Linked DNA regions of Homo sapiens. The protein of the gene in region 1 purifies or fractionates together with the protein of each later gene. This does not show direct contact. Each region holds a gene or a part of one and is shown on either strand. Other genes may lie near its edges.

Evidence for each region.
Region 2: the proteins of KBTBD8 (region 1) and ARRB1 purify together in Homo sapiens (affinity purification with western blotting, with the first as the bait; one study listed by BioGRID). This does not show direct contact.
Region 3: the proteins of KBTBD8 (region 1) and PKN1 purify together in Homo sapiens (affinity purification with western blotting; 3 studies listed by BioGRID and IntAct, with this or other methods). This does not show direct contact.

What each region holds. Positions count from the first base shown.
Region 1 is NC_000003.12:67,001,238-67,004,889, reverse strand, and holds part of KBTBD8 (kelch repeat and BTB domain-containing protein 8), read right to left. Parts: intron 1,696-3,652; coding exon 581-1,695; intron 1-580. UniProt on the Homo sapiens protein: Substrate-specific adapter of a BCR (BTB-CUL3-RBX1) E3 ubiquitin ligase complex that acts as a regulator of neural crest specification.
Region 2 is NC_000011.10:75,345,042-75,348,693, forward strand, and holds part of ARRB1 (beta-arrestin-1), read right to left. Parts: intron 1-3,652. UniProt on the Homo sapiens protein: Functions in regulating agonist-mediated G-protein coupled receptor (GPCR) signaling by mediating both receptor desensitization and resensitization processes.
Region 3 is NC_000019.10:14,453,694-14,457,345, reverse strand, and holds part of PKN1 (serine/threonine-protein kinase N1), read right to left. Parts: intron 1-3,652. UniProt on the Homo sapiens protein: PKC-related serine/threonine-protein kinase involved in various processes such as regulation of the intermediate filaments of the actin cytoskeleton, cell migration, tumor cell invasion and transcription regulation.

The DNA.
Region 1 (3,652 bases):
ATAAACAGCAGTGAAGGTGAAACTTGAAGACCATACTTCCAAACTCTTTGTAATTAAATTTCATAATTTTTGCAATAATAAGGCTTATATAAAACTCTTTGGTAACTAAATAGTATAACTTAATTAATGCTTTGTTCTTTTCTCTTTTAAACTAATCCAGTAAATTCCACAGAATACCAGTTGCTACAACATCTCAATTTTACTCAAGAGCAAAAACAGCCATGTAACAACCTTGCTATTTATTTCAAGTCCTACAAACTACTCTGAAATAGTTATCCCAAAATGCCGAACTATTATTTATTAAAGAATGTTTTCAAAAATAGTTATTCTACATGATATCAAGACACAAAATCATTAAAAATTATAGGATTATTTTAGTAATTTAACAATACCTGCCTTTTTTTAATTCAAGAGTTTATTTTCTTTATAGCTCTTTACAGAACAGACTGTTCCAATAGTTTGATAAGGAAGCTGGAGGTATTCCTCAATTAACGGGAACACAACTGTTTCAGTATAATTAAGTAAACCACCACTTGATGTGTTACCCTTCCATGAAAAACTAAATCACTTAGGCACCTACCCTGTAAAACATAGATCTTCTCTTTGTACTCCACAGCATTATGAAATTCCATTGCAACTGGCATCGCGCAAACAGTCGTCCAACAATTCTCTCTACTGTCGTAGCACTCAACAGATTTTAGTGAGTTTCTCCCATCACCTTCATAAACACGACCTCCGATTGCATACATTTTACCACAGCAATAGACAAGTTTGCAGCCTATTCTGGCTCGAAGCAAGGATGGTTTGGATAGCCATCTATTGGTGGAATGATCATACATCCAGAAATCATTTTCTGCCTTATGGTCGATGGAGACCTCACTGCTGCTTGGCCTGTACCCTCCTGCAATGTAAATGTCATTATCTGGTGATACAAGAATCCCAACTTCTCTCAGGTCATTTGGTGGTTTGCATAGTTTAAACACCCTTCCTGTGACTATATCTAGACAAGGCACTGTTTGCTTCTTTCCTGAGTGTTTGTGGGCAGCATCAAAACATATGATCATTTCAGAAGCAGTCATTCCAAGCCTCTGTGTACAGCCATTGGTGTTGGATGGTCCCTTTTCTACACAGCTTTTGGCTATAGCCTGTGCAAACTGAGGTGGAATTTTCTCTATAAAGGTATCTTCCATCAGAGGAAAACGTATGCATTTAGCAAAAATTTCTGGAAGGTGCACTTCTCTTTCATTCTGTTCATGCTCAAACCACCTTATAATGCTTTCATAAACATGCTCTTCTCGGTCTACATTTAAATCGTCACTGTCTAGTATACTTATCAGTTGGTCTTTTGTCAACTGGAGAAACTCTTGTTCTTTGGTGACACACAGAAACTTTTTACGAATGTATTCTTTTGATCGATCTCCGAGTTCCTGATGACCATAATGATCAGCAAAGATAAAGACCCCAATAGAATTCTGTGGGTCCAAATGACTGATCATATACTTAGCACATTGGTCTTGGATGGAAGGAATCTGGAAGATGCTAGCTGCAGTGAACAAGGCTTGAACATTGGCCTCTGTAAGAATAACTCTGGAAGTGTAGGCATAGTTCAACACTAAATCCATCGATTCAGCTTCAACACCAACTATTCGAACTTCTTTTTGAGTACTTTCTGTAAGGCCGCTAGTGAACATGGATCTAAGAAGGAAAGAGTGGTTAATATTACACGTGTGCTATAAATCAAAATTATTGTGGCAAGATTTTAAAAGTACAAAGTTACCACAAAGATAACCTTTTGAAACAGAATATTTCCTAAAATAGTCCCTGATATTCTGAATAGGAGTAAAAATTGATAATGTATCAGAAGGATTTAGTCTGGCTAACCTCAAAACCCATATTCTCAGGGCTAGCTCGCTGTGTGCCAACTATGAAAAAAGGAGAGTACACCTAAGTAAATGCAAATCAAAAGGTGACACACATATTCCAGGTCACTTTATTTTCCTAGAAGCCCCTATCCAGAGTTCTGGTCAAGTTGCCTTAGGGACATCAGATCTTAAATTGGGCCATGCCAGTCAGAAAGCTTAAGAATACTGGCCCGGTGTGGTGGCTCATGCCTGTAATTCCAGCACTTTAGGAGGCCAAAGTGGGTGGATCACATAAGGTCAGGAGTTCAAAATCTGCCTGGCCAAGACGGTGAAACCCCATCTCTACTAAAATAAAAAATTAGCTGGGCGTGGTGGCACATCCCTGTAATCCCAGCTACTCAGGAGGCTGAGGCAGGAGAATCGCTTGAACCCGGAAGGCGGAGGTTGCAGTGAGCTGAGTGCCAGCCTGGAAGACAGAGTGAGACTCCATCTCAAAAAAAAAAAAAAAAAAAAAAGAATACCTATAAAGGTATCAACATGATACATTAGCATACAAAGAAACAACCTAATAAAAACTTTTCATGTCCTGGTGAAAATTACAAGGCAACTTGTATCCAAAATATATCTTTAAAATGTTCATCTTAGAAAAGCAAGAAGTTCTTTAAAAGTACATATTCTCCACCTACTCCTTTTTAAAACTGTCATCTTTTGAATGCTGCCTTAACCATTATAAGTAATATAATAATCACTTCACTTACCCTTGGAAATTTTGAGAACATTTGCTTAAAAGGAAATACTTCATTTTCTCAAAGATACCATATTTTACCTACCTAAATCTAGACATAAATAAAGATTATGGTAGAGTCAATACATAATGCCTGTTTTAAACAGAGTTTAATAGTTAACTGATTCTTTGAAGATAATGGTTTTTAAAACCCCAAACTTTTACCTTCGAGACCAAGTTGGTTTTTTCTATTATTAAAATATTGTTGCATTTATGGGATTTTCTTGACCGAAACATTAAGCAGCCTGGCTCTTTAAGTATTAGTCACTTGCAAACATCATTTGCCTTTCTTTTCGCTCCTTTAAAGTTTCATTCTAGATGATCCAGACTCATCCTATTTAATTTTTGTGATCTTATGAAAAATGAATTGCAAAGATTTCCAGTCACTTAAAAAATATCTCTCAAATTCATGGAATTAATTTTAAAATGCAGTATGAGAAACACTGGAGGTACAAGGACTCAACTTGCTGCCCAGGTTAATCATCTTCGAGTCCTGTTTTTACTTCTACAATGTACATTTTAATTTAGTATCACACTGGCTTTTTTGATGACTAAAAACTAGATGTTCCTACGTATGTGCTGGTTTTCAATTCAGGTGCTGAAAGACTCACCGATACAGCTACCAATTAAAAAGAAAAATAAAGCCCTGCATTAGGGAGACATTAACTCCCAAAGGAAGACATTACCACATATCCCTTTATCATGGGAACTACTGCTGACTTGAATAGGCTCATCTTACACACAGGAGTGGTCTCACACTTCATGAGTTTTCCTCTGTTCTAGTAAGTTCTTCATGTAAACTCAACATAAATGAAGCCAGGGCACTTCCTCACACAAAATCCAGAGCAGCAAAAAATTTCTAATAATCATACAAATTTCAATTCTGATGAGTTACTGGTATCATGAAACAGCCATTCCAGATTTCCAGCCGTTCTAATTCTTCCACTAGTGATGCAAGACGTAGAAACATTAAGTACGATTTTCTACATCCCACACAGGAAGCAGC
Region 2 (3,652 bases), on another chromosome or scaffold:
CTCTCCAGGTGCAGGGAGGCAGAAGCTCAACTGTGGCCTCAGCCAGGTGCCGCCCAGCCCCAGGCAGAGGAAAAGCTGTTCAGTTCCTGCGGTGACCTTAGTCACACACAATTCTGGGGACCTGTCTTGTCCAACTCCCAGGGGCTTCATCTGGCACCAGGTCTCCTGGGAAGGAACAAGCAGTTCTTCTGAAGTGGGGCTAAAGATGGGGCCAGTCCCAGGAAGGAGGAGGCGCGTCTCCCGAGAGATGACCCTGCCAGGGCCCCTTAGGGAAGGCGGGAGGGGGCTGGGACAACAGAGTCCTTTGTTACCCTCTCAAAAGCAGCCACCCTGTCCTGCCAACCCCCTCTGTTCTCCAACCCCCTACTAGGACTCAAGCCACCCCTGGGACAGGAACCATCCTGTCCACATAGGAGGGAAGAACACAGGGTGCCCAGGGACCATCTGAGACGATACCTGTTCTAATCCCAGGGCTCACATGGGAGACAAGGCCCCAACCTCAGGAGCCCCCGGTGTGATGGAGGAGACATCCTTCCTTCAGAAGCCTCCAGTCTGAGGAGGGAGACATGGCTCCCACCTGCAAAAGCCAATCAGATGAGGGAGCCCCAGGCCTCCCGCTCAGGCGCCCCATGCTAATAGGAGTGGTATAACCCTGTCCCTCAGGACTTCCCAGTCTGATGGAGGAGTCAGGACCCCACCCCTCTCTTTTGAGAACTTGCCTAATGTGGGAAATATCGCTTTCAGTCTTACGATTCACTAATGGGAAAGGCCTAATTTCAGCACTTAGGGAGTCCCTGGACCGATAGCAGAGGCAAGAAGGGAAAAAAATTTTCAGTCCAGTTCAGCAAACCTCTGCCAGGCATCTCCTGGGGAAGCAGACCCAGCGTGGGTAAGGAAGCATCAACTGAGAAACAGAAATAGCCCTGAACCACAAGCTGCTTACCAAATGGGGAGCTCACTCAGCCTGAGGTATGAATGAATAAGAAAGTACCTTGAAACCACCCCCTCCAGCATCCAAGACCTGCTGGCCAAGGCTGTCCCTTCCTCCACAGCCTCACCCCTCACACTCCCACACCTGCAGCCAGTATCTGCACCTTGGCCTAGGCTCTTTCTTCTGTCTAGAACACCTTACTCCTGCCTAAGTCTTTCTCATACTCCAGCACCCAGCTCCGGGGTCACCTCTTCAAAGAAGCCTTCCTCCAAGTCCCCCACCTGAGTCAGAAGCCCCTCCTTTCTGGAGCCAGCACATTACATGTCTTCCCCAGGACCAGCTCACACTTCACAACCCCTCAGCCTGAGCCTGAAAGGAGAGCACAGGGCAGTGGTCTTCTGCCTCTGGACATAAGGCAGAGGGAGGGGGTGGATGAGATAAAACCCCTAGGTTCCCATACCCAGTCTTCACTGCCTGCCGCCATACTGCTTGCTCCCAGCCCAGGGCCTCACGCCCTTCCTCCAAGAGGCTCAAGCCTTGCTCCAGGCATGTAGAAAAGCAGGGTCCCCTCCCACTCCTCTCTGCCCGCTGTAGCCTAGTTTTGCCCTCACCACTCCACCAAAACCCATGCCACCAGCTAATGCCTTCTGGCTGAATCTGAGGGGTCTCGCTCCAGCTCATCCTCTGTGGGTCTGTCCCTGCTTCTTTGGCTCCAAGAATATGGCCTTCCGTCAGTTTCCTCCCTCTTCTCTCCATACCCAGGCACTGGTGCTCTCCAAGGCCCTGGCTGTCCCTAATCATCCTCTCTTCATACTCTATACCTCCTCCCTATGCGATGTCATTCATCCACATTTCCAAAGCCCTGCCTCGCACCTTGATTCTTACCCCAGGATCCAGACCCTTCTATGCAGAAGCCCCACTACGTCCAGCCTATAACAGACTGCCCTGGCTCCCTCACCAAGCTGCTCCCAGCCATGCAGGCCTCAGCCAGATGGTAGGCGCGGGCACTCTGGCAGTAGCGGAGCATGGCTGTGTAGAGGCCAGGACCTCACTTGGGGTGTGCTGACTCCCAGCCTGCTGTTCTACTGCCACCAACCCAAAGTGTCAGAAGCCCTGGAAGTGGCAAGCCCACAACTCAGGACCTCTGGACCCATGCCAACGGGAGGCGTCAGCCTCAGGCAAGGAGGCCCAAACTTGGAAGGAAGAGAGCAGTGGAGAAGTCTGAAGCCCAGAGGCCGGCCTGGAATCAGGGATCAGAGACAGTGGGCCAGACTTGATGCTACCACTCCCAGCGGCCCCATGAGCAGCCCTGGCCAAAGCCACAGGACTTCCCCATGTTCCAGCCAAGATGGGTCACACAGGGCTTAACCACCAAGAGAAATGACAGCCAAAGTTCACAGAGAGCTGGTGATTACATGTCCTCATCACCCTCCTTTCTCTGAAAAAAGAGGAGTTCATCTGCAGGAAAGGAAATTCCATTCCCTACCACTGCCTCTCAGGAAGTCCCTCCTGTTGTCTAAATCTGATCCTTCATGTTGTCTGTTGAGTAAGTGGAAACGGCAAGGCCCAGAAAGGACGCACAACTTGAGGCTGGGAGCTGCTGGGGAGGCCAACTGTGAGCCAGACAAGGCCCCCTCTCTTGGGCAAAAGCGTCGAGTAGCAGAGAGGGCTTTGTGGGTCAATAGGCCTGGGTTCTTATGCTTGCTGGCTGAATGGCAGTGAACAAATACTTAATCTCTTCTAGTCTGTTTCCTCATCTGCAAAATGGGGACAACAATGACTACACTACTAGATTACAGTTGAATTCATTGAGATTATGCGTGTAATTCTAACACACACCAGATACCTGGCAAAGGTCCAATCGACCAGCAAGGTTGATGGACTCCACCTCCTATTCACATTCATATTTCTCAACTCTATCCTCTCTGCAGCCTAAGTTCAGAGCTCACAGCCTTAGTTCTCAGGTTTCTCCCCAGCCTCCTCACTGGTCTTCCTGCTTCTAGGCCTGCTCTTCCCATCCACCCTACTTGGCGCTGCCAAAGACATCTCTCTGAAATGAAAACATCTGCTTCCAGCCCTCTGCTGCCTCACACTCTTCTCTGAATCACCATCCACTTCAGGAGAAAATGCTCTCTCCTTAGCCTGACATTCCCAGACTGCTGGTGACCGGTCTGTGTTTACCTCTTAAGGCTCACTATCATCCCCAGCCCAGGCCCCAGGCTGCACGCCTTGCTTCCTGCCTCCAAGCCACTGCACATTCTGCACCCTTGGCCAGAAATATCATTCCCAATCCCGCCCCCTTGGCCTATTCATCCTTCCAGATGAAGCTCAGTAGTTCCAACGCCACCTCCTTTCCAGGAGAGCTTCCTGTACCATGCTCCCTGCCTGGGCCTGGGTTGGGGACTTCTCCTTAAGCCTCCCACAACACATGTCATCCTGCGTTATGACCACCTGCTCTGCTCTAAATCCCTGGAGGACAGAGTAGACTCCTTCCTTGCTGAATCCCCAGGCCCTGGGCACTCAGAAGGCACTCATCAACATTTGTTGAATGAATATATGATTGTTCCCAGAGCACCTTGCAGCAACCATCATACTCCTGCCCTGTGATTAGTCCTGTCCAGGTATTTTTTTTTTTTATTTTTTCAGACAGGGTCTCACTCTCTCATCCAGGCTGGAGTGCAGTGGCATGATCATGGCTCACTGCAGCCTTAACCTCCAGGG
Region 3 (3,652 bases), on another chromosome or scaffold:
TGGCAGAAAGGGGCATGTCTATTATCTTTTTCTTTTTTTTTTTTTTTTTCAGTAGAGATGAGTCTTGTTATGTTGCCCAGGCTGGTCTCAAACTCCTGGCCTCAAGTGATATTCTCCTGCCTCAGCCTCCCAAGTATCTGGGATTACAGGCATGAGCCACCAGGCCTAGCTGTCTGCTATCTTTTTAAAATGAATCCTCCCCTCCATAACTTTTCTCCCACTGTAAAGTTTTGCATTTGACATTGAAGCCTTTAATCCAGTTGATTTTTTTACATGGTGTGATGTGAGGCAGGGATCCAAATTCAATTTTATTCTACATGGAAGTCCCAGCCACATACTCCTAAGGATTTATTTATTCATTTATTTTTTGAGCCAGAGTCTCTCTCTGTCACCCAGGATGGAGTGCAGTGGCACAATCTCGGCTCACTGCAACTTCCACCTTCTGGGTTCAAACAATTCTCGTGCCTCAGCTTCCAAAGTAGCTCAGACTACAGGCGCACACCACCATGCCCAGCTAATTTTTGTGTTTTTAGTAGAGATGGGGTTTTGCCACGTTGGCCAGGATGGTCTTGAACTCCTGACCTCAAGTGATCACTGGTCTTGGCTTCTCAAAGTGCTGGGATTACAGGCGTGAGCCACCGCGCCCAGGCACTCCTGAGGATTTACCCTAGCCAAATGCATGTGGGTATACATCAGGAGATGCATTTATATAAAGTGTATGTAACAGTCCAAAATAGAGGCATCCCACAGTCCATTAACAGGAGAATTAATATTTTAAAACTGCTATACCATCTTAGTAGCTGAAGTACGAAATTGCTGATATTTAACTATTTTTTTGCTTTCAGAAAGAGGCAATTCGATATGGCTCAGTCTAACATAATGGATTACTAAACAGGAATAAATATGAATTAACTATAGCTTGTCACAACAAAATGGATGAGTCTACCAAAACAATGCTTTTTTTAGTTTGGTTTTGTTTTTTGCATTTTTTTGTAGGGTGGGGTTTCACCATGTTGCCCAGGCTGGGTTCAAATTCCTTGGCTCAAGCAATCCCTCCACCTCGGCCTCTCAAAGTGCTGGGATTACAGGCATGAGCCACTATGCCTAGCCCCTAAACAATGTTGAATGAAAGAAGCCATGTGATAGAATAGTCTGTATGAGCCTGTCAATATAAAGTTCTAATACCAGGCAAAATTAAACAAAAGTTTTTGGGGATGCAAACATGGGGTTCTACAACTACAAATTATAGCAAGGAAATGATAAAAGTCGGGAGAGTAGCCACCTCTATGGCAGAGGAAGGAGATGGAATTGTGGAGGAGACAAGAGGGGGCTTCTGGAGAGCTGGAAATATTCTATTTCTTTTCCTTTTTTTTTTTTTTTAAGATGGGGTCTCGCTCAGTTGCCCAGGCTGGAATGCAGTGGTGCAATCACAGCTCACTGTAGCCTTGACCTCCTGCGCTCAAGCAATCCTCCCACTTCAGCCTCCCAAGTAGCTGGGACCGCAGGCACAAGCCACCATGCCCACGCCTGGTTAATTTTTGGTTGGCTTGTCTTCTCTTTTTTTCCCTTTAGTTTTTTTTTCTGTGACACAGATTCAGGAGGGCCTGATGACATGTACCCCCAATTTTTTTTTTTTTTGAGACAGAGTCTTGCTCTGTCACCCAGGCTGGAGTGCAGTGGCGCGATCTCGGCTCACTGCAAGCTCTGCCTCCCAGGTTCATGCCACTCTCCTGCCTCAGCCTCCCGAGTAGCTGGGACTACAGGCGCCCACCACCACGCCTGGCTAATTGTTTGTATTTTTAGTAGAGTTGGGGTTTCACTGTGTTAGCCAGGATGGTCTCGATCTCCTGACCTTGTGATCCACCCGCTTCGGCCTCCCAAAGTGCTGGGATTACAGGCGTGAGCCACCACACCTGGCCATATGCCCCAATTTTTAAATTATTTGTAAAGACAAGGTCTTGCTATGTTGCCCAGGCTGGTCTTGAACTCCTGGGTTCAAGTGATCCTCCTACAAATACCAAAATGCTGGGATTCCAGGCATGAGCCGTGGCACCTGGCTGCCATATTCTATTTCCTAACGCAGGTGGTGGTAATATGGGTGTCTGCTCTCCTGTTACTCTTCTCCACACTCCCTTTTTTTTTTGTACATACGTATTAATTTTCTTTCTTTTTCCTTTTTTGCCATGAGATTACGAATCAAATTTTCTTTTAAAAAAATTATGGCCAACATGGTGAAACCCCATCTCCATAAAAATACAAAAATTAGCCGGGTGTGGTGGCGCACGCCTGTAATCCCACCAGCTATTTGGGTTGGCTGAGGCAAGAGAATCGCTCAAACCGAGGAGGCAGAGGTTGCAGTGAGCTGAGACGGTGCCACTGCACTCCAGCCTGGGCAGCAGAGGAGAATCTGTCTCAAGAAAAAAAAAATTATGGTAAAATACATGTAACATAAAATTTACCATCATAATCACTTTAAAGTGTCCATCCAGTTCAGTGGCATTAAGTACATTCACATTGCTGTGCAACCATTACCACCATCCATCTCCAGAACTTTCACCTTACAAAACTGAAACTCTGTCCACATTAAATAATAAACTCCCCATTCCCCCTCCCTCTACTCCCTGGCATCCATCATTCTACTTTCTGTCTCTATGAATCTAACTACTCTAGGAACCTCATATAACTGGAATCATACAATATTTGTCTTTTGGGGACTGGCTTATTTCACTTAGACTAATGTCCTCAAGATTCATCCGTGTTGCAGGATAAGACAGGATTCCTTTCCTTTTTTTTTTTTTTTTTTTTGAGACAGTGTTTCACTCTGTCACCCAGGCAGGAGTGCGGTGGCATGATCTTGGCTGACTGCAACGCCTGCCTCCTGGGCTCAAGCGGTTTTCCTACCTCAGCCTCCTGAGTAGCTGGGATTACAGGCATGTGCCACCACACCCGGCTAATTTTTGTATTTTTAATAGAGATGGGGTTTCACCATGTTGGCCAGGCTGGTCTCGAACCCCTGACCTCAAGTGATCCACCTGCCTCGGCCTCCCAAAGTGCTGGGATTACAGGCATGAGCCACTGCGCCTGGCAGGATTTCTTTCCTTTTTAAATCTGAGCAATGTTCCATTGCATGGCTGGCCCACGTTTTGTTTACCCATTCATCTATTGGTGGATCTGGGTTGCTTCCATTTTTGGCTTTCATAATGCTGCTATGAACACAGGTATACATATCTCTGAGACCCTTTTTTTTTTTTTTAAATATTTTTCTATCACTATTTTTAAAACTGACAAATAAAAATTATATATATTTATCATGCACAACATGTTGTTTTGAAATATGTATGCATTATGGAATGTCCGAGGCCCTGTTTTTAATTCTTTTGGGGATATGCCCAGAAGTAGCTTTGGATCATATGGTTACTCTTGTTTTTTTGTTTGTTTGTTTGTTTTGAGATGGAGTCTCATTCTGTCACCCAGGCTGGAGTGCAGTAGCATGATCTCTGCTCACTCCAACCTCTGCCTCCCGGATTCAAGCAATTCTCCTGCCTCAGCCTCCAGAGTAGCTGGGACTACAGGCGTGCACCACCACCAAGCCCGGTTAACTTTTGTATTTTTAGTAGAAATGGGGTTTCACCATGATGGCCAGGCTGGTCTT